Regions from separate parts of the Homo sapiens genome. Here region 2 is linked to region 1. Evidence: fine-mapped expression QTL. A gene starts in region 1. The other region holds a variant in brackets. All regions are shown on one strand. Distances are from middle to middle. Region 1 holds the start of POPDC2 (popeye domain cAMP effector 2). Region 2 has its middle 8.7 kb from the start of CFAP91.

What was found. PIP is the estimated chance that this variant, and not a neighbour inherited with it, causes the effect.
Region 2: its variant is the best candidate, but not a certain one, in a credible set for the expression of POPDC2 in whole blood (INTERVAL, PIP 0.74).

What each region holds. Positions count from the first base shown.
Region 1 is chr3:119,655,016-119,664,578 of GRCh38, forward strand. It overlaps POPDC2 (popeye domain cAMP effector 2), which reads right to left and starts at 5,574. Exons shown (of 4, transcript NM_001369919.2): 1 at 4,918-5,574. The coding sequence starts at 5,408. It also overlaps a transcript of COX17 not described here. RefSeq lists an enhancer at 7,829-7,878.
Region 2 is chr3:119,689,543-119,699,105 of GRCh38, forward strand. No RefSeq gene overlaps it. Among named protein-coding and RNA genes, the nearest start is that of CFAP91, 8.7 kb to the right of the region's middle. RefSeq lists an enhancer at 7,957-8,006. The variant C/T (reference allele first, on the strand shown) is at 4,122.

The sequences.
Region 1 (9,563 bases):
AGAAACTACTGCTTAAGAACTCTGCTGCTGGCCCGGCGCAGTGGCTCACACCTGTAATCCCAGCACTTTGGGAGGCTGAGGCAGGTGGATCACCTAAGGTCAGGAGTTCGAGACCAGCCTGGCCAAGAGAGTGAAACCCCCATCTCTACTAAAAATACAAAAATTAGCCAGGTATGGTGGCGGGTGCCTGTAATCCCAGCTACTTGGGAGGCTGAGGCAAGAGAATCACTTGAACTCGGGGGTGGAGGTTGCAGTGAGCCGAGATCACACCACTGCACTCCAGCCTGGGCAAAAGAGCAAGATTCTGTCTCAAAAAAAGAGAAAAGAATGCTGCTGCCTATTTAAGTTTACATTTACATTAATTAAAATTAAATAAAATTAAAAATTCAGTTCCTTACCTAATTACAATATGGGTGTTCAATAGCCACATATGGCCTGTGACTACCATGTTGTACAACATAGATCTAGAACGTTTCTGTCATCACAGAAAGTTCTGTTGGATCCGCTGCTCCACAGATTCTCCTTTCTCCCTTCCCATTAGCTACATGAAGATTCATGCTTACATTTAACCACTTTGTAGACTTTGAAGGAAGTGGCAAGTCTACCATATGCCAGACTCTGCTAGACACTTTACCAGTGTTCTCTTATATAATGTTCACAACACCACAAGGTAGATTATTCTTTTCTGTATTTTATAGCTAAGGAAACTGGTGCTCAGAAGGGTTGAGTGGCGAGCTTAAGGCTACATAGCGATCAAGTGGCGGAACTAAAATTCTATGTTCTTAGCACAACACCATGTTGCCACCCTATTACTACAGCTTTGGGTAGATGGTAGTGGACTCTCCTAGCATGACCCTTTCCCGGACCTCTCTAACCGTAGGTGACAATAACAGCTTGTTTCTTTAGACAATGAGATCCCATGCACCCTATCCAGCTGATGGTCCTAGAGTGAACACCTGACTCAAGCTGAGCCAATCAAACTCCTTCCCTGGGAATTTGGAAATGGAATTGCGTGTAAATCATGCCTTGGATGGGGACAATTATCAGGCATTATTAACAAAACTAACACACTCCTCCCTGAAGGAACTAAAAAAAATTTTTTTTTATCACGTAACTCAGACTTTGAAAAGCATGGGTCCCAATTGGCTATAGAGAAAATAAACTTGAAATCACATAAAATGTCCTAGTAGGACATGTTCTTGTTTCTAGCACTACCTGAGGCTTAGGTGCATGTCTTTCCTTGAGTTTCATAAGAAATCCTTGTATTTTTTTAAATAAAGACCTTTTTTCCCCCTTCTGTTGGCTAGAGTGGGTTACTGTGGCTGCAGCCAGAAATCCGAATTATTTGCTTTAATTTTATGAATATTCTTAAGTCTTAAGTCTTAAGTCATTAACTGCTCTTGACTTGCCCATGACCACAGGCTTGGTTTCACAACTTAAGGGGTTAGGAGCCTTACTATTGCTGCTTGGTGCCTTTGTACCCTTGTGGCTGTACCTAGCCTAGTGCTCTGCCCCTGCAGGGTAAAAAGACTGCATTCCATGAGAACTTGTTAGAACTGATGGCATGTCATTGATGATGCCTGAGGACAGGGAGTGTATTTCAGATGTGAGGCCACATCTGGAAGAAGATTAGAATCCAGTATGGGCTTTATCCTTCCCCCAACCCGACCCCTGCCCAGAAAACTCAGAGTTTCATCTTTAACCTCTCTTCTAAAGTGAGTTATATCAGGCAATAGGGGTGCCTCTATTAGGCAAAGGGGGAAGATGAAAAAGATCTCTAAGGTACACCTTGTTCATTTGGGGGAGATATCCTTCCATTATTTCTGGAGGTTTATTGGCTAAACAAATATTTCTGGAGCATCTCTCATGTTTCTGGAGATCTGGGAATGCAGAGATGGGCACAATCTGGTCTTTGTCTTTGAGGATTTCACAATTTAGTGGAAGTCACAGGCACATAAATAACTGGCTGCAAGTCAATGTGATAGGTGCTATTGTGGAACAGTAACAGAGGAGAGAGAAAGATTGGTTCTCTTTGGGCAGCAGACCTCTCGAAGGAGATGACATTTGAGCTGAATTTTGAGGGATGCAAAGGGTATTGAGAAGCAGATAAAGATGAGAATGAACAAAGACCTGGGAAATCCAGTGTGGCAGTCTGTTCTCCAGTATCTGCTTTCTTCTCTTCCTTAATGGTGCTAGATTTTAACTGGACACATGACTGCAGAGAAAAAAATCAACATTTCTCTACTTCCCTGGCTGCTAGGCATAGGCAAGTGATAAGTCCTGGCCAATGGGATATCAGCACTCCTGAGCCTTGCTCTTAATGAATGCCTAGGTATACATGCGTGTATACAAATTACCAAAGACCAGCACCAATTAAAAAAACAATTGCACCTATTATCTGACAACCTAAAGCTGGAAGACAGGAGCTTTATTCAAGACTCTGAATAAATATGTATGGAAGGGGGAAAAGAAGGAAAGAAGGAAGCAAGAAAGTAAGGATGAATAAATGAACAAAGGAAACCAAGGAACAAACTCACTTGTGTCACCATAAAAGGGGATCAAAACCTCACTGAAAAGCTTCCATAGCAAAGGAAGACAGCAGAAGAGAATGGCGCTGCTGCAGCATATGTCAGCTCCTTAGGCGAGGATTTCGGCCACCCAGGCAAGCCACCAAAGAGTGACAACCGTAGAGTGTAGATAATGTCTAATGATCTTCGTGGCTCGCTGAAGCCATTTAAATCGGAATGCTGTGCCCTTTATCATCTGTTTCTTCTTCCTTCTTGATCTACTGGAAGATGGATGATCTTCTCCTAAATGAATAGCTTAGATAGTTAGTTGCCTGCTCAGGGGGTTGTATATATGGAAGTTTGTGTTTTGAATTTTATATGAGAGAAACGTCTAAGTTAAGCGCTGCTTAACAGGGTGATAGACTTTGAGAAAGTCACTTTCCCTCTCTGAGTTTTGAAAGAGATTGGTTTCCTTTATTAAAACAAAACAAAAAGACTTCTGAGGTTTGAGTGAAGGACTCTAGAGAACAGTGTGCATGTGAGATGTGGAAGTCTGCACAAGAGTCCCCACTTCCTGGCACAAAGTTCTTGTCTGCTGCTTTGAGATGTTTGGTCCCTTACTGTAACCAGCCCAAGGTTCAGTGATTCTCCTTTAAAACTAGAGCCCAGTCATAGACTAGAAGCCTTTTCCTCTATGTCCAGCTCAGCAAAGCTGAGACAGGGTGACACTGAAAGATAACAAAACTCTTACTCCAAACCTTGAAAGGCAGGAAAAAAAAAAATCAAAATTGTCTAATTTCTGACTCAGCCTTTTGATGCTAAGTATACCAGGAAAAGCTACACCAAGGGCAAGCCCCCCTCTCCCCTTCACTGGGAAGTGATCTTATACAAGTTCACAGTAAATCTATCCTAACTGAACTATACAGTAACCATACATGCTTCCAGCAAATGGGCACCCTACACTGGAGGGAGCACTTCTGCTGCTCTCAATTTCCTCCTTTGAACAGACGAGCTATAACATCATGGGTCTCATGAATGAGCAAGTTCCCTAAATTGTCTTTAAGCATGGAACTATAGGTGCAAACATTTTCACAATAGTTATATGTATTTGTATTTACATCTATATCTGTTTACAAATAATCGCATTGGTTTACACTTTCAGTTCACCAATAAATGAAATGAAATGTACCCTCACAAAATGTCTCCCCTCCTAGCTCACTCTATCCAGGACCTCTGAGTTCAAACAAAATCAAAACATATATACATGATACTTCAGGTTCTATAAATGAATACACAAACACGTATTATTACTATTAGTGGTAGTTGTAGTACCATTAGCATCATTGTCAAACTTTTTTCTCCATTGTGTGGTTGGCAGTATTATCTGGATTTGCTTTTTTTTTTTTTTTTTCTTGGAATTGGAGCCTTCTAATTGCCATCTTACCTTTTCTATCACATTCTCCTGGTCTCAAGAAAGCTGGTGGAGTGGGGGTTGTGGGGCTCAAGAGCCACTAGGGCAGTATAAAAAAATCCACAATTGCCTACTAAGTGTGTAGCACAGAGCCCCGTGATGTTTTCTCAGAAGAAATCAATGCCCAACATTCACATCCAGGTTGACTGGGCATACACTGATCCTGACTAAGACCATTTCTGCCCATATCTGACTGTCAGCCTTCTCCAAAAGAGGCGGTGCTTCCACAAAAGCCTTGATGAGATAGGTGTATCACTTCTCTTCTCCCATTGTTGGGCCCTCAGATTTACAGTACTGTACTTGACTTCTTAGTCTTCAAGAACCTCAATAGAACAACTGGAAATGGAAAGGTGGGCAAGGGGTATTCACTCTCCCTACCTGGCTACATACAGCTACCCCAAACACAAGTGGGGCTGTTTGCTTGATGCCTTGGCAGGGAACAGGGGTTATGAGAACCACCCCGCTATCCCGACCTCCCATTTCTGGCATTGTTCCCTGAATACAGTTGGTGCTTAGCAAATGTTGAATTTGAGTAAGGAACAGATTAACCTTATTGAAATGTTAGTTTTTCAAAGCTTACAGAGATATTGCTGCAGCTTAGGCATGACACACTGATATGTGTGTGGTGATGGTAGAGGGGTTATTTAAGGCCCAGGCTCAAGACACACGCACTGCACACCTTCCAGCAGCAAGTGCACATACAATCATTCTTGCCAACCAAGATGCCTCATGAACTGGTTTCTTCTTGGAAAATGCCAAGAAAGAGGAAGCAACCCCACTCTTAGAAAAATCTATTTTGGTTTGTTTGACTTGTCACATCCTTCCCTCAATGGAAGGGGACACGAAATGGAAAGGGACATGAAATGGAAAGGGACACACTAGGAAATGAGAAGTGTGGGCTGGGGAAAGAAATTCTGGGCAATGGATAGAGTAGCTTACCGGCCAGAGAGCAGCAGGGACAGGCGGTTGATGGGTGTCTCACCCTCCACAGCATAGGTCTGTTCAGTGGCCAGAGTTAAGACCTGCTCCTCGCAGCAGTGAACAATCTCCTTGTATGTCTGTAGGGGCACCTGCAAGGGCAGGCACAGCGTCTTGTAGAGGAGGTCAAACTCCTCAGGGAGGGTGTCCTCACGCAGGCGGTATACCAGGTGTGCCAGCTGGAGCAGGCAGACCACAGCCAGCAGGAAGCTCCAAAGAACAATGTCCAGGCCACAGGCACTGAACCAGCCCCACAGCACGCAGCACAGGTAACCTGCACTCAGGAAGCCAAAAAGATAGAAGCATCCATACACCCCACTGCCCCCCATGAAGCCCAGGAGTAAGAGGCAGTTGGCTAGGTGGTAGACAGCCCCTTCCACATCCTGCTTCCACCTAATGCACGCTGAACCCTGCAAGAGAAGCTGGCCCACTCTGCTGCTGTTGGCGCTCATCTTTGGGGCCTCTCAAAGCCTCACTGGGCTCTAATACTGTCCTCACATAGGAAATTCAGAAAATGAATGAATCCATCCGCTCAGGGGTCTTCTCACCTCCGGCTTCTCACTACCGACTCCACCTTTCCTAGAAGGAATGCTTCCGGTGGCTTTGGGAAGGAATGATGGAACATAGTACACTTCATGGAGAATTTAAAAACCTCTTTCTCTCTCTCTCTCTCTCTCCCCCTCTCCCCCCCTCTCTCCTCCCCACCACCCCCGCTGTCTCAGCAAGGCTCTGGCTCTCCCTGCAGAGCTCTGGCAAGCTTCCTTGGTTCCATGTTTCTTGGGAGTCTTCAAATTTGGTTCTTAGCAGAAAAACCTAAATAGTCCCAAGGGAAAGTAGCACTACAGGACTGAAAAGTCCAGCAGCGTGGGATGATGCGGCCACATCCTGCTCTCTGTTTTTCCCAAGCAGAATGAGGAGAGCCAGCATGGGAGGCACATTTGTGTTCCATTTGGAATGTGTTCTCTCTTGGCACCGGAAGAAAGGGTGACCCCAGATGGATACCATGTTTGGAATTGGAATCCAAGAGGTACTGGCAGTGAGAAAAAACAGGCCAGGCACAGGCAGCCTGGCAGAGCACTTAACATACCTCCCAGAGGACAAGATAAGACCTCAGGGTCAGAGAGACAGACAAGGAGAGAGAAAGGAAAAGTGAGCACAGAATTCACCTGAACACCTCAGGCAGGAAACTGTCCCGAGCTCCCTTTGGGGAGAGCCAGACAGTGCTTCTGAGTGAGGACACATCAGAGTAGGAAAGTATGGGACTATTATCAGAAAAAATCCTAACAGTGAAAGCTGGAAAACCCCCTGAAGGCCTTTATTAAGTCACACTGCAAATATCATTATGTATTTATTTGACATCCATTTAACAAAAGTAGCTATGTAAAGTGGCTTTTTGAATTCTAAGCTGGCTTTCCCCTGCATATATCTGGATCTGGTAATAGTAAACAAATAATAATACATTGCCCAGATCATCATCCCACCCACTCCGGTGCTTCCAAATTATAATTCCCACCTATTAAACACCCATGAAGTGCCAAACCTAGATTAGGCATTTTATACACTTATAAGTTAGTTGTGACAACAATCCTTCAAAATAAATATTATTCTCCTTCTAGATCTGGAAGAAACTGAGGCTCAGAGAGGTAACAAGCTCCCACAGATGGTCTAAGTGGCAGAGCCAGGATTTGAACCCAAGTCTGTCAAACTTAATACTCTGTCCCAAGGGGTTTGCCAGTAAGTGGAAGTACAGTACTAGATCCATGACTCCCAACTCCACACTTCTATGAAGTCTGACAATTTTCAAGGAACTTCTGGTTGAACCTAGGAATCTACTTTGGGCTGCCAAGAGATAAAGCTGGAGTATGCAAACATTAGGCTAAGAAATGTTAGTTGGGCACAGTGGCTTACGCCTATAATCGCAGCACTTTGGGAGGCTGAGGCGGGTGGATCACCTGAGTGAGGCTGGAGTTCGAGACCAGCCTGGCCAACATGGTGGAAACCCTGTCTCTACTAAAAGTATAAAAATTAGCTGGGCGTGGTGGCGGGCACCTGTAGTCTCAGCTACTGGGGAGGCTGAGGCACAAGAATCTCTTGAACCTGGGAGTCAGAGGCTGTGGTGAGCCAAAATTGTGCCACTGCATTCTAGCCTGGGTGACAGAGCAAGATTCTGTCAAAAAAAAAAAAAAAAGGAAGGAGAAGAAAGAAGGAAAGAAGGAAGGAAGGAAGGAAGGAAGGAAGGAAAGAAAGAAAGAAAGAAAGAAAGAAAGAAAGAAAGAAAGAAAGAAAGAAAGAAAGAAAGAAAGAAAGAAAGAAAAAGAAATGTGACTCTCTGGATTCCAAATGACTCCTTGATTCTTCCTCCCTGCTGCTGGGTTAGCACTTACTCCCATTACTCCTATCGCCCCTGAAGTACAGGCGGGGTGCTCAGTAACCTCCCAGAACTAATCAAGGACTCAATTCATAAGGACTTTTACTATACTGCTATAACTTGATGAAAATTTATGAGAAATTCAAAATTGTCAAATATGGTGAGAAGGAGATGTTTTCACTCAACAAATATTTATTGAGTGCCTTTTATGAGCTAAGCCCTTGGGCATCAAAGATCCTCAAGAGAAACTTTCACCCTGTTAGGGTAAAGAGACCTCAAAAAACAAAGGCAGTTCAGTATGTGAAGCACAACAACCAAGTTAACTTTGAAGGATGGTGGCAGCCTAGAAGGAAGGGTGGCATCAGGGAGGGAAGATGCAAAGAAGGGCTGGCCTCTAATTTGAGGTTTAGGGGTTGAATTCACCAGGCAGGTAGAGGGAGAATAGCATTTCTAGTGGGGAGAACAGCATTTCTAGTGGTGAGAACAGCAGAAGCACGGGCACAGAGGCATGAAAATGCATGGCATGTTGAAGGAAGCCAGTTTTTTCTTAACCTCATTAAAATCATCTGACCAACAAATATATACCTTATTTCCTCCTTTCTAAGTTAAGAGGAAAAAAATCAGTAAAGAGCTAGAGTATTTGGAGAAGAAATGTCACTGAGGTCACTCCATGGACATGATTTGGACCCCTGACATCATTTTAACAGTGGGGTTTGGGGATTTCCATATACTGTTTTTACATCACTTGCCTGCCTCCCAAACAACCCCCCTACTTTAACAAGCAGCAGCTGCTCATCCTTCTATCACAGACATGCAGCCCCTGAGCTTCCAGAGTAGCTGTCCCTGCCAGCTGTAAGCAGGGAAGTCAGAAGCATAGAAATGAAGAAGCAACCAAAGCTCTGCCCAAGATACAATTTCAAAGCAGCTCATCTTTCTTAGGAGACCTGCCAAATAGGTTGGCCCTGACCCATTAAAGAGACAGGCAGACCCATTAACTCTATGGTTCACTTGTCCTGCTGTCCAGACTGCACTCAGCCTGCTTTCCTGTCAATCCACATATGTGCTATCTCAGCAGAGGGGACTAACATTTATCAAGCAGCTATTGTTTTATGTTATCTTACTATACCTATTTTTTGTTTTAATAGAAGCAGCAGGCTCAGAGAGGCTAAGGAACTTGCCCAAGGTCACAAAGCTAGTCAGTATGTGAATAAGGATTAAAGCCTAGGTCAGTGTGTCTCTGAATTGTATATTCTCTACAGTATATTAATAACATCCTACCAGGTACTTTTGGGAGTTTACATGTGTGCATATACAAGCTCATCTATTGCTGCTGGAAATTTGAGTACATTGCCAGGGTGGCATACGTGTCAGAGAATCATGGGTGCATGTAATAGTGACATTACACTGCAGTAATAGTGGCCTGCAGTAATAGTGACATTGATGCCCACAGGATAGGACCTGTGATCAGAACACAACAATGAAAAGTTGTGTCTTGTGTAAGTCCAGATTTGATAGAAAAGGAAAGAAAAAATGTATTGTCTGTCAAAATGGTATGTTCTTATAAGGAAATACACAAACATGAAGGCAGAACACAATAAAAAACAACTGGGAAAGAAAAAAGGAAAGAAACATAAGTTTTCTCATTTGTTGAGCTGATTCAATTCAATAGGCATTTATTCAGGACAGACTATGTGTTCCAAGAACAGGGGATATAAAGATGAATAAGACAATTATCACTTCAAGAAACTTTCAGTCTATCCCGGATACTGACTCAGAAACTGTAATCCAATAAAATAAGTGTACTTAGGATTCAAAGAAAAAACACTTATGAGGGAGCAAATAATTCAATCCATAGGGACTTTTACTATACTGCTATAACCTAACTAAAATTCATGAGGTTGGGGGCGTGATGGCTTATGTCTATAATCCTAGTATTCTGGGAGGCTGAGATGGGAGGATCACTTGTGCCCAGGAGTTTGAGACCAGCCTAGGCAACATAGTGAGACCACTGTCTCTTAAAAAAATATTTTTTTCCACGAGAAAACATCACAGGGAAGGTGACTTTTAATCTGGTCTAAAAAGATGAGTAGGTTTTCCCCAGCTAGAGGAGGGCATTCCAGGAAGAAAGAACAGATTGTAAAGTCAGTCCCAGAAGTAAAACAAAATACGTGGCATATTCTGGTAACAGAGAACAGCTTGTTGTAGGTGAATCAAAAGGAGCAGCAGACAAGAGGCAGGC
Region 2 (9,563 bases), 35 kb after region 1:
CCTCTGTAGTGTCTTCTTCAGCATCCCTGTTGATCAAACTAGTCAATATCTGTTTGCCTTTACGTGGAAAGGACAACAATATACTTGGACTGTTTTGCCTCAGGGCTATATGGAAGGCCCTTCCTACTTTTCTCAAATTCTGAAAGCTAATTTACAAAATGTGGCTTTTCTTCAAGGCTCACCCTTACTGAAATATGTAGGTAATTTATTTCTTTGTTCTTTCTCACGCAGGTAGCCTGTGAGATAGACAGTGTGCATCTTCTAAAACTTCTTGCCACAAAAAAATCATAAGGTTTCTAAGAAAAAATATAACTATAGTTAAGACCCAAGCTAAATATCTAGGTCATCTGACTTCTTGAACATGACTACGTTTGGGCCCTGAACAGATCCAAGGTGTCCTGCAGTTCCCCAAATCTAAAATGAAATGGCAACTCAGAGAGTTTCTTAGACTTGCTGGATACTGCAGTAACTGGATACCAAACTTTTACTTAATTGCTCAACCCCTGTACACCCTACTCAAGACCTCTAAAACCGATCCCATTGTTTGAGAAGAATCTAAAAATATTGCATTTACTAAATTAAAGAAAGAATTATTAAACCCCCCATACTCTGAGACATCCCAATTATCCACTCCTTATTTTCCTTTTTGTTTATGAAAAAAGGGAAATTCCTTGGGCGTCTTAACTAAAAAAATCATTGAGAGTAACACTGCCCCCAGTGGATATTACAGCCAATAACTAGATCCAGCGGCTTGGGGATTATGCTCCTGTTTGGGAACTATTCCAGCTACTGCTCTACTAGTTATAGCTATAGAATAAATAATCATGAGATCTCCTTTGACCACTTTTGTTCCCCATTCTGTTGAAGCTCTTAAATTCCCATCATACCCAACACCTTTCTACCAGTTGTCTTAGCATTTATGAACTTCGTTTACTAGCTGCTCCTCACATAACTTTCTCTCTGTAACAATCTTAATCCTGCATCTCACCCCTTCTTTCTGATGAAACCCCCCATGAGTGTTTGACCCTCACTATCTTTTGATTCCCCAGAAAGATTTGCAATATAGTCCATTGGACAATGCTGAACTATCATTGTTTACAAATGGATCATATTTAAAGGATGACACTGGCAAAGAGTGTGCAGGATATGCAATTATTACCTTTTTTTGAAGTATCTGAGGCTAGCTTCCTACCTGTGGCTACTTCTGTCAAACAGGCTGAGCTTTTGCCCTTACTTGGGCTTGCCTCCTTGCTAAAGGGAAATCTACTAATCTGTATTTACAGGCAGTAGGTATGCTTTCGAGGTTGCTCATGATTTGGGGATGTTATGGAAATAATAGGTTTCCTCACTTCCATGGGAGGCCAAATTACAAATGGATCCTACACACAAGACTTACTGGATATCATCTAGCTACCAGCTGCTTTGGCTATTATCTAATTTTCTGTACATTCAAATCTACATTTTTATGGAGATGAGAGTAAACCGCTTTGCTAATAATGCAGCAAAGAATGCTGCCATTAAAGGTTCATTTGATCAAATCTCTGTTATGGCCCTACTAAAAGAACTTTCAACAAATGATTTAAGAATAATTATCAAAGAGGCCAGGCACAGTGGCTCATGGCTGTGCACTTTGGGAGGCCGAGGCAGGTGGATTGCTTGAGTCCAGGAGTTAGAGACCAGCCTGGGCAACATGACAAAACCCCATCTCTACAAAAAAACACACTCAAAAAATTATCTGGGCATGGTGGTGTGCTTCTGTAGTCTCAGCTACTCAGAAGGCTGAGGTAGGAGGATCTCCTGAGCTCAGGGATGTAGAAGCTGCAGTGATCCATGATCAAGCCACTGCACTCCAGCCTGGGTGACAGAATGAGACCCAGAAAAAAAAAAAAGAACAATTACCAAAGATGCACAGAATTGGGCCTCAGAAGTCAAAAAACAAAACTGAAGTCAAAAAAACAAAACAGGGCTGGGCACAGTGGCTCACAACTGCAATCCCAGCATTTTGGGAGGCTGAAGTGAGTGGATCACCTGAGGTCATGAGTTCAAGACCAGCCTGGCCAATATGGCAAAACTCTGTCAAAATACAAAAAAATTAGATAGGCTTGGTGGCATGCACCTGTAATCCTGGGCTACTCAGGAAGCTGAGGCACAAGAATCGCTTGAGCCTGGGGAGCAGAGGATGCAGTGAGCCGAGATCTTGCTACAGCACTCTAGTCTGGGCGACAGAGTGAGACTCCTCTGTCTCAAACAAAACAAAACAAAACAAAACAAAACAGGCTGGGTGTGGTGGCTCACCCCTGTAGTGCACTTTGAGAGGCCAAGGTGGGAGAATTGCTTGAGGCCAGGGATTCAAGAGCAGCCTCCCAATACAGTGAGACCCTGTCCCTACAAAAAAATGAGAAAATTAGCCAGGTGTGGTGAGGTGTGCCTGTAGTCCCAGCTACTTAGGAAGCTGAGGCAGGAGTATTGTTTGAGCTTAGGAGTTTGAGGATGCAGTGAGACATGATCACACTGCACTCTAGCCTGGGTGGCAGAGTGAGACCCTATCTCAAAAACAACAATGAAACCGAAAAAGGACCATGATTTCTGGTTTGATGAGCAAAAGGAACTCTGATCGGGACCTGAGAACAAACCAGTTCTCCCAGATTCAAGGAAATATCCACTATTAACTACAGTACATAATTTGATTCATTAGGCAACTGACATTAATTTCTTCCAGAAAACAATATTGGTGGGGTGGGGAAATATTTTAAAAGCCACTAAAATGCTTATTTGACTTTTACCACCTGTCCTAAATTTAACCAAGGAAAATCTGTATAGACTCCTCCTTGACATTTAAATTTACCTAATAGGCCATTCAAGGTTTGGCAACTGAATTTTTTCCAACTACCTCCCTCCCATGAGTATACATATATATTGGTTATGATCTGTATGTTTTCCCATTGGGTGGAAGGCTTTCTTTTAGATAAGCTACTGTTTTAGCTATGGCCAAACTTTTCTTTGAAAAAAATTATTCCTCTTTGGGGAACTCCCCTTGAGCTTCATAGTAACCAGGGAACCCACTTTACTGGCCACATGGACTTCTTATTATGCTTACCATCTTATAGGACTTATATTGTTCTTACCATCCCCAATCTTCTGACCTGGTAGAATAAACAAATGGAACCATAAAGACTCAGTTGGCAAAATGTATGGAAAACTTGCACCTCCCTTAGTTTAAAGTTCTTCTCTTGGTATTATTACTGAGAACCACTGCTTTTAGAGCCCACAAATTTTCATCTTTTGAAATAATCACTGGTCATCCTATGCATTTAATGCCCACTGCCTTTGACCCTCAATTGTTAAAAGGAGAGATACTATAATACTGTAAGGGAATTATTACAGTAGTAGACAAATATTATATTTTGGTAGAAAAATCTTTCCACAGTGTGCTCCTGGAGGACAAAGACCTAAAGCACCAAGACCTAAAGCTACAACCTGGTGATTCTGTCTATCTTGAAAAGACACCTATATGAAGACTCTCTCCAACCTCATTGGAAGGTCCCATACCAAGACCTTCTCACCAATCCCTGTATCACCAAACTCAAAGGCATTGACTCATTGATCCACATCTCTCATTTTAAAAGGGCTTCTACTTCTGCCTGGACCGGTACCCCAGCAGGCAATTTAAAGTTTATCTGTTATCTGAAGCAGACAACAATTGAAATAAACTGCTATTCACAAGACGTCCAGACCAGGCCAATATACCCTTTTCCTTTTACTATTGGTCTCTTCTTATGTGCTTTTATTTTCCTGGAAAAATAAGGCTCTAATTTGCATTTTCTAATCTATTTCCAAAATGAGAAACATAACCGATTTATTGGATTTGGTACCAAAAAAACTTCAATCTCCATGATGCAAGTGAACCCCTGGTCTAACTCATAATGGATTTTTTTTTTTTTTTTTGAGATGGAGTCTTGCTCTGTTGCCCAGGCTGGAGTGCCGTGGTGTGACCTTGGCTCACTGCAACCTCTGCCTCCTGGGTTCAAGCGATTCTCCTGCCTTGGCTTCCTGAGTAGCTGGGATTACAGGCGCACCACCAGGCCCAGCTAATTTTTGTATTTTTAGTAGAGACGGGGTTT[C/T]ACTGTGTTGGTCAGGCTGTTCTCAAACTCCCGACCTTGTGATCTGCCCACCTTGGTCTCCCAAAGTGCTGGGATTACAGGTGTGACCAGCGGTGCCCAGCCCTCAGAACAGATTTTACTGATATTCCCCATGTAACTGTTCTAATTATACATCTAGTCCTTTTTACAAGGTCAAGCTTTTAGACTCACATATTCAGATTTCCTGTTTCACCCTAACATTACCTAAGATCTACAAAAAAGGCCTTGAAGTTAGATTAAGATTATGCAAACAACATGCTGATAGAATTCAAGAGAAAAGAAATTTGACAGCTTATAAAAATATTTATGACCTTCCTCCTCTAATTGTTGATGACTTCCAACAGTGCAATAATTCAATAATAGAACCCTGGATAATTACTGTTGACACCTCCCTACAAGTAACTGTTAATGCACAAGGTACTCCATCTACGTGGAATTACCTGTTGTGACACATCGAGATACATTTTCATCTGTGGGGGAGCCTACAGTCAGCTTTATTCATGGGCAACATCATGTCTCAATAAATGGAAAATAAAGCACCAATGTGGTCTGGGATATTTCTACATTCAATTTAAACTTGCAAAATCTGAACATTGGTTGACATCTACTAACTTGCACCATCATATCAAAAAAGACACTCTACCTAGAGGCATAAACTCAGCAGGATGGGCCTCAGTTGTTAGATCCTTCTTCCTCTGGATTGGGGTTAGTACCTTAGAAATAATGGTTAGAAATTTATCCCTAACTATTGGAGCTCCAGCTGACTCCACAGCCAAAGCCATGGCAGCTCACCAAACTTCCTTAGATTTTCTTGCCAAAGTGGTTTTCGATAACAGGATTGCTCTAGATTGCTTATTAGCTGAACAAGGTGGTATTCGTGCAATTGCTTACACTAGCTGCACATGGAAGTAGAAAACACAATTATGAAAGATAACGGAACATGCCACCTGGCTCCAGAAAGTTCCACCCAATGCATTTGGACTTTTCAATCTGTTTAGTGACTTACCTTCAAAATAAGATTCATGGTTTAGAGCTATTTTTCAAACTGAATTCATGATACTATTGCTGCTTATTCTTGACATTATGATAGTTAAGTTACATTATTGTTGCCTGTCTAATCTTTGCAAAGCCTGCTTTCCCAACAGGAAAATGTTAGTCCAGTGCTTCCAGATGATTGCTAATGCCTGTGTAACTGATAAGATGGAATCCAATGCTGAATCTCAGGTAGACCTATCCTGTAAGGGTCTTTCCTTCCGGCCCCTTTGTTGTCCAAATGTGACTTGGGCCTCTAATGTTGACTCCTATTGACTCCTATTTTCCCTCTAGTGTGGGGTCAGAACAACTAGGACAAAGCACATCCCGGCATTGAGGGAGATCAAGCCTAACTTCAAGGATAGTTGACCAGTGATGCTTTCAGGGAAAGATCTTAGTCAAAAAAGGGAAATGTGGGCGCGGGGGCTCACGTCTGTAATCTCAGCACTTTGGGGAGGCTGAGGCGGGTGCATCATTTGAGGTCAGGAGTTCGAGACCAGCCTGGCCAACATGATGAAACCCCGTCTCTACTAAAAATACAAAAATTAGCCTGAAGTGGTTGCACATGCCTGTAATCCCAGCTACTCGGGAGGCTGAGGCACAAGAATTGCTGGAGGCTGGAAGGCAGAGGTTGCAGTGTGCCGAGATGGCGCCACTGCCCTCCAGAGTGGCCAACAGGGCAAGACTCCGTCTCAAAAAAAAAAAAAAAGGTGGGGGGGTGGCAGGGAGCAGAATGTGAAAGTTGATTATCTAAATGGAGTCATACCTGTCATACCCAACTAAAATTTACAGTGCAGGGTGGGGGGGCATAGAGAAAAAACAAAAATGAAAACAAAACTCAGGTCTCAAAAGCCTGCTCCAGAAACTGTCCAGTAAGCCCAATTCAACGAAACAGCTGCTACAGTTTTAAGACTAGTTTTACAAGGAAACAGCCACCATGACTTTAAAACTAGTTTTACCTAGAAATTGTGGCCACTGACCAATCAGAGCTCACCAGCTCCTGCAAAAAACATGTTGCAAGCACCAAAGAGCTTTCTTTCATAACAACCCACATACTCTTTCTCCTTTCCCAATAAAACCTTCACCATTTTTTTGTTCTACCACATATCAGAGACCACCCTGGTCTACGCATGTGTACCAGATTGCAACCCTATTTCTTTATTCCAAAATAAACCCTCTTTTGCTTGGAGATTCATCTCTCTATATATTTGTTATTGATAGAAGATAAAAAGCTAATAAGAGACTGTGTGAACATACACACAAATGAATAAAAGTTGGTGAACTACCTAAAATAAATGAGATCAAGCCTGTGTATTTTTGTCTTTAGCTTCCGGTTGGGAAGAATTTCTTCCTTTCTATAGCTGTGAGACCATCAACCAAAATTCAGAACAAACTCCAATAAGTTGCAAAACACTGATCAAAATCAAATGCTCACTGCAGCCTCAAAATCCTGGGCTCAAGCTATCCTCCCACCTCAGCCACTGAGTAGCTAGGACTACAGGCGCATGACACCACGCCCAGCTAATTTTGTTGCTGTTGTTGTTGTAGAGAGAGGATCCCACTATGTTGCCCAGCGTGGTCTCAAACTCCTGGCTTCAAGTGATCCTCTTGCCTCAGCCTCCCAAAGTACTGGGAATACAGGCATGAGCGACCATACCTGGCCTAAATGCTCTCTCTCTCTCTCTATATATATATATATATATACTAACCTGTAAATTTAAAATTTCACCTAATGAGCCAGCTTAAACTGGAAATTTTGTTTTCTAATAACATTTGTTTTTTCTGATTGAACTGATGTTTTCCAACAGTAGCAAAAGCTGATGTATAGCATTTAGAAGCTAAATGTAACTACCATGTAATGTAGTAGTAAATGTTACTATGTAATAGTTACATAGTAACTAATAGTATGTATTAGTAGTACACAGTACTAATACTGCTGATACTACTGCTAGTACTATGTAACTGGTAGTTACATAGTAGTTACATTTTGCTACTAAATGTAACTGAATAGCATTTAGCTACTAAATTTATATATTTAAATCCATGTTTACTTACATTTAGCTACTAAATGCTATTCAGTTAGTAGTGAAATGTAAATATGTGTTTAAGTATATGAATTATATCTTTAACAGTCATGCCTATTCTTTAGCCCTACATTTGCCCTTTGTATTCTTACATATTTTAAGATGAATATCAGATGTAGTTCTAGGTAAATGGGAAGCTCATGATGCACGAAGACAGAAATGGAGAAATTGAGAAGATTTATGAAGCTAGGTAGTATTATAACATTTATCGGACACTCGCTATCTAACAGACTGTGTTCTAAGTCCTTTGTAGGTGTTACCTCCCATAATTTTCCCTGATATTATTGCTGTTTGTTCTCATTTTAGTGTTTTGGAAACTGATGCATGTGGATATTAAGTAAATGCCGAAGATCACACGAACTGTTTTAGAACAAAGATTCAAACTTAGGAAATCTGATTCTAATGTTCACGTAGTTAATCACTGTATTAGAGTTTCTGCAGTGTACGGAAGTGTTAGTTTTACTGAGGATGTATTGAGTTTGTCTAGTAGATGTTTGGTCATTTGAAATGGAATATCTTAAAGATTGTGAAGGTATGAAATTGGCAGTGAGACAGAAGTGAAAGTCACTGATGGCAGACAGGTAAATACATGAATAATTCAGTAGCTCAATTCATTCCAATGTATTTTCCTTTAGCACCTGCTTTGTGCCAGGTGCTGGTGTAACTACCCAGTGAGTTCTCCTTGCTCGCTGGCTAGACAGAGTCAGTTTATAAGATAGGGGAACTGCAATAGAAAAAGAGTTTAATTCACACAGAGCCAGCTGTACAAGAGACTGGAGTTTTGTTATTACTCCCCAAACGCTTGGAGGTTAGGGGTTTTTCGGAGACAGTGTGGAGGGCAAGGGGGGTATGGTAGGGGGCATGGCATACTAATTGGCTGGGTTGGAGATGACACCATAGGGAATTGAAGCTGTCCTCTTGGGCTGAGTCAGTTCCTAGGTGGAGGACGACAGGACTCGTTGGCAGGTCCAGGTGGGGCCATCTGGTTGTCAGAAATGCAAAGGCCTAAAAAGATACCTCAAAAGGCCAGTCTTAGGTTCTATAATAGTGATGTTATCTTCAAGAGTAATTGGGGAAGTTGCAAATCTTATGACCTCCGAAAAAATGGCTGGTAATTATTTATAATTCAGGCCCCTTTCATCCTAACTTTGTGGACTTTCACTCATTTTATAAAAATAGTTTAGTTTTTGGGAGGGGCTATTATCATTTAAACTATAAACTAGGCCAGGCACGGTGGCTCACGCCTGTAATCCCAGCACTTTGGGAGGCCCAGGCAGGTGGATCACCTGAGATCAGGAGTTCAAGACCAGCCTGGCCAACATGGCTAAACCCTGTCTCTACTAAAAAATACAAAAAATTAGCTGGGTGTGGTGGTGGGCACCTGTAATCCCAGCTACTCAGGATGCTGAGGCAGGAGAATCACTTGAATCTGGGAGGTGGAGGTTGCAGTGAGCCAAGATTGTGCCACTGCACTCCAGCCTGGGCAACAGAGCAAGACTCCATCTCAAAACAAAAACAAAAAACAAACAAACAAAAGTATACTCTAAATTTCTCCCAAAGTTAGCTTGGCTCATGTCCCAGAATGAGCAAAGACAGCCAACCTGTGAGGCTAGAGTCAAGATGGACTCAGCCATGTCAGATTTTTCTCACTGTCATAATTTTCTCAGTTATAATCTTTTGCAAAGGTGGTTTTACTGGCCTAAGAGATATGGATGAATTCAGGGTGAACAGGACATTTGAGGTCTCTGGTCTCACAGAGCTTACATTCTAGTGGGAGGAGATATAATAAATAAGCAAATCAGTAACATTTCAGTGCTATAAAAAAAATCAAGGTAATAGTGTCTTCGGATGTGTTTATGGAGGCTGCTGGCTGTTGACTACCTTAGATAGTTTATCTGATAGAATGAGGAAAAGAAGTCTTTCTTCTTCTTCTTTTCTTTCTTTTTTTTTTGAGACAGAGTCTTGCTCTTGTTGCCCAGGCTAGAGTGCAGTGGTGCCATCTCAGCTCACTGCAACCTCCGCCTCCCAGGTTCAAGCAATTCTCCTGCCTCAGCCTCCTGAGTAGCTGGGATTACAGGCGCCTACCACCACGCCTGGCTAATTTTTTTGTATTTTTAGTAGAGACGGGGTTTCACCATGTTGGTCAGGCTGGTCTTGAACTCCTGGCCTCAGGTGATCTGCCTGCCTCAGCCTCCCAAAGTGCTGGGATTACAGGCGTAAGTCACCATGGCTGGCTGAGGAAAAGTCTTTCTGATGAGATTGCCAGAGGCGTTTAAACCTGGGCAACTCCATTTTGAGTAGGGGCTAG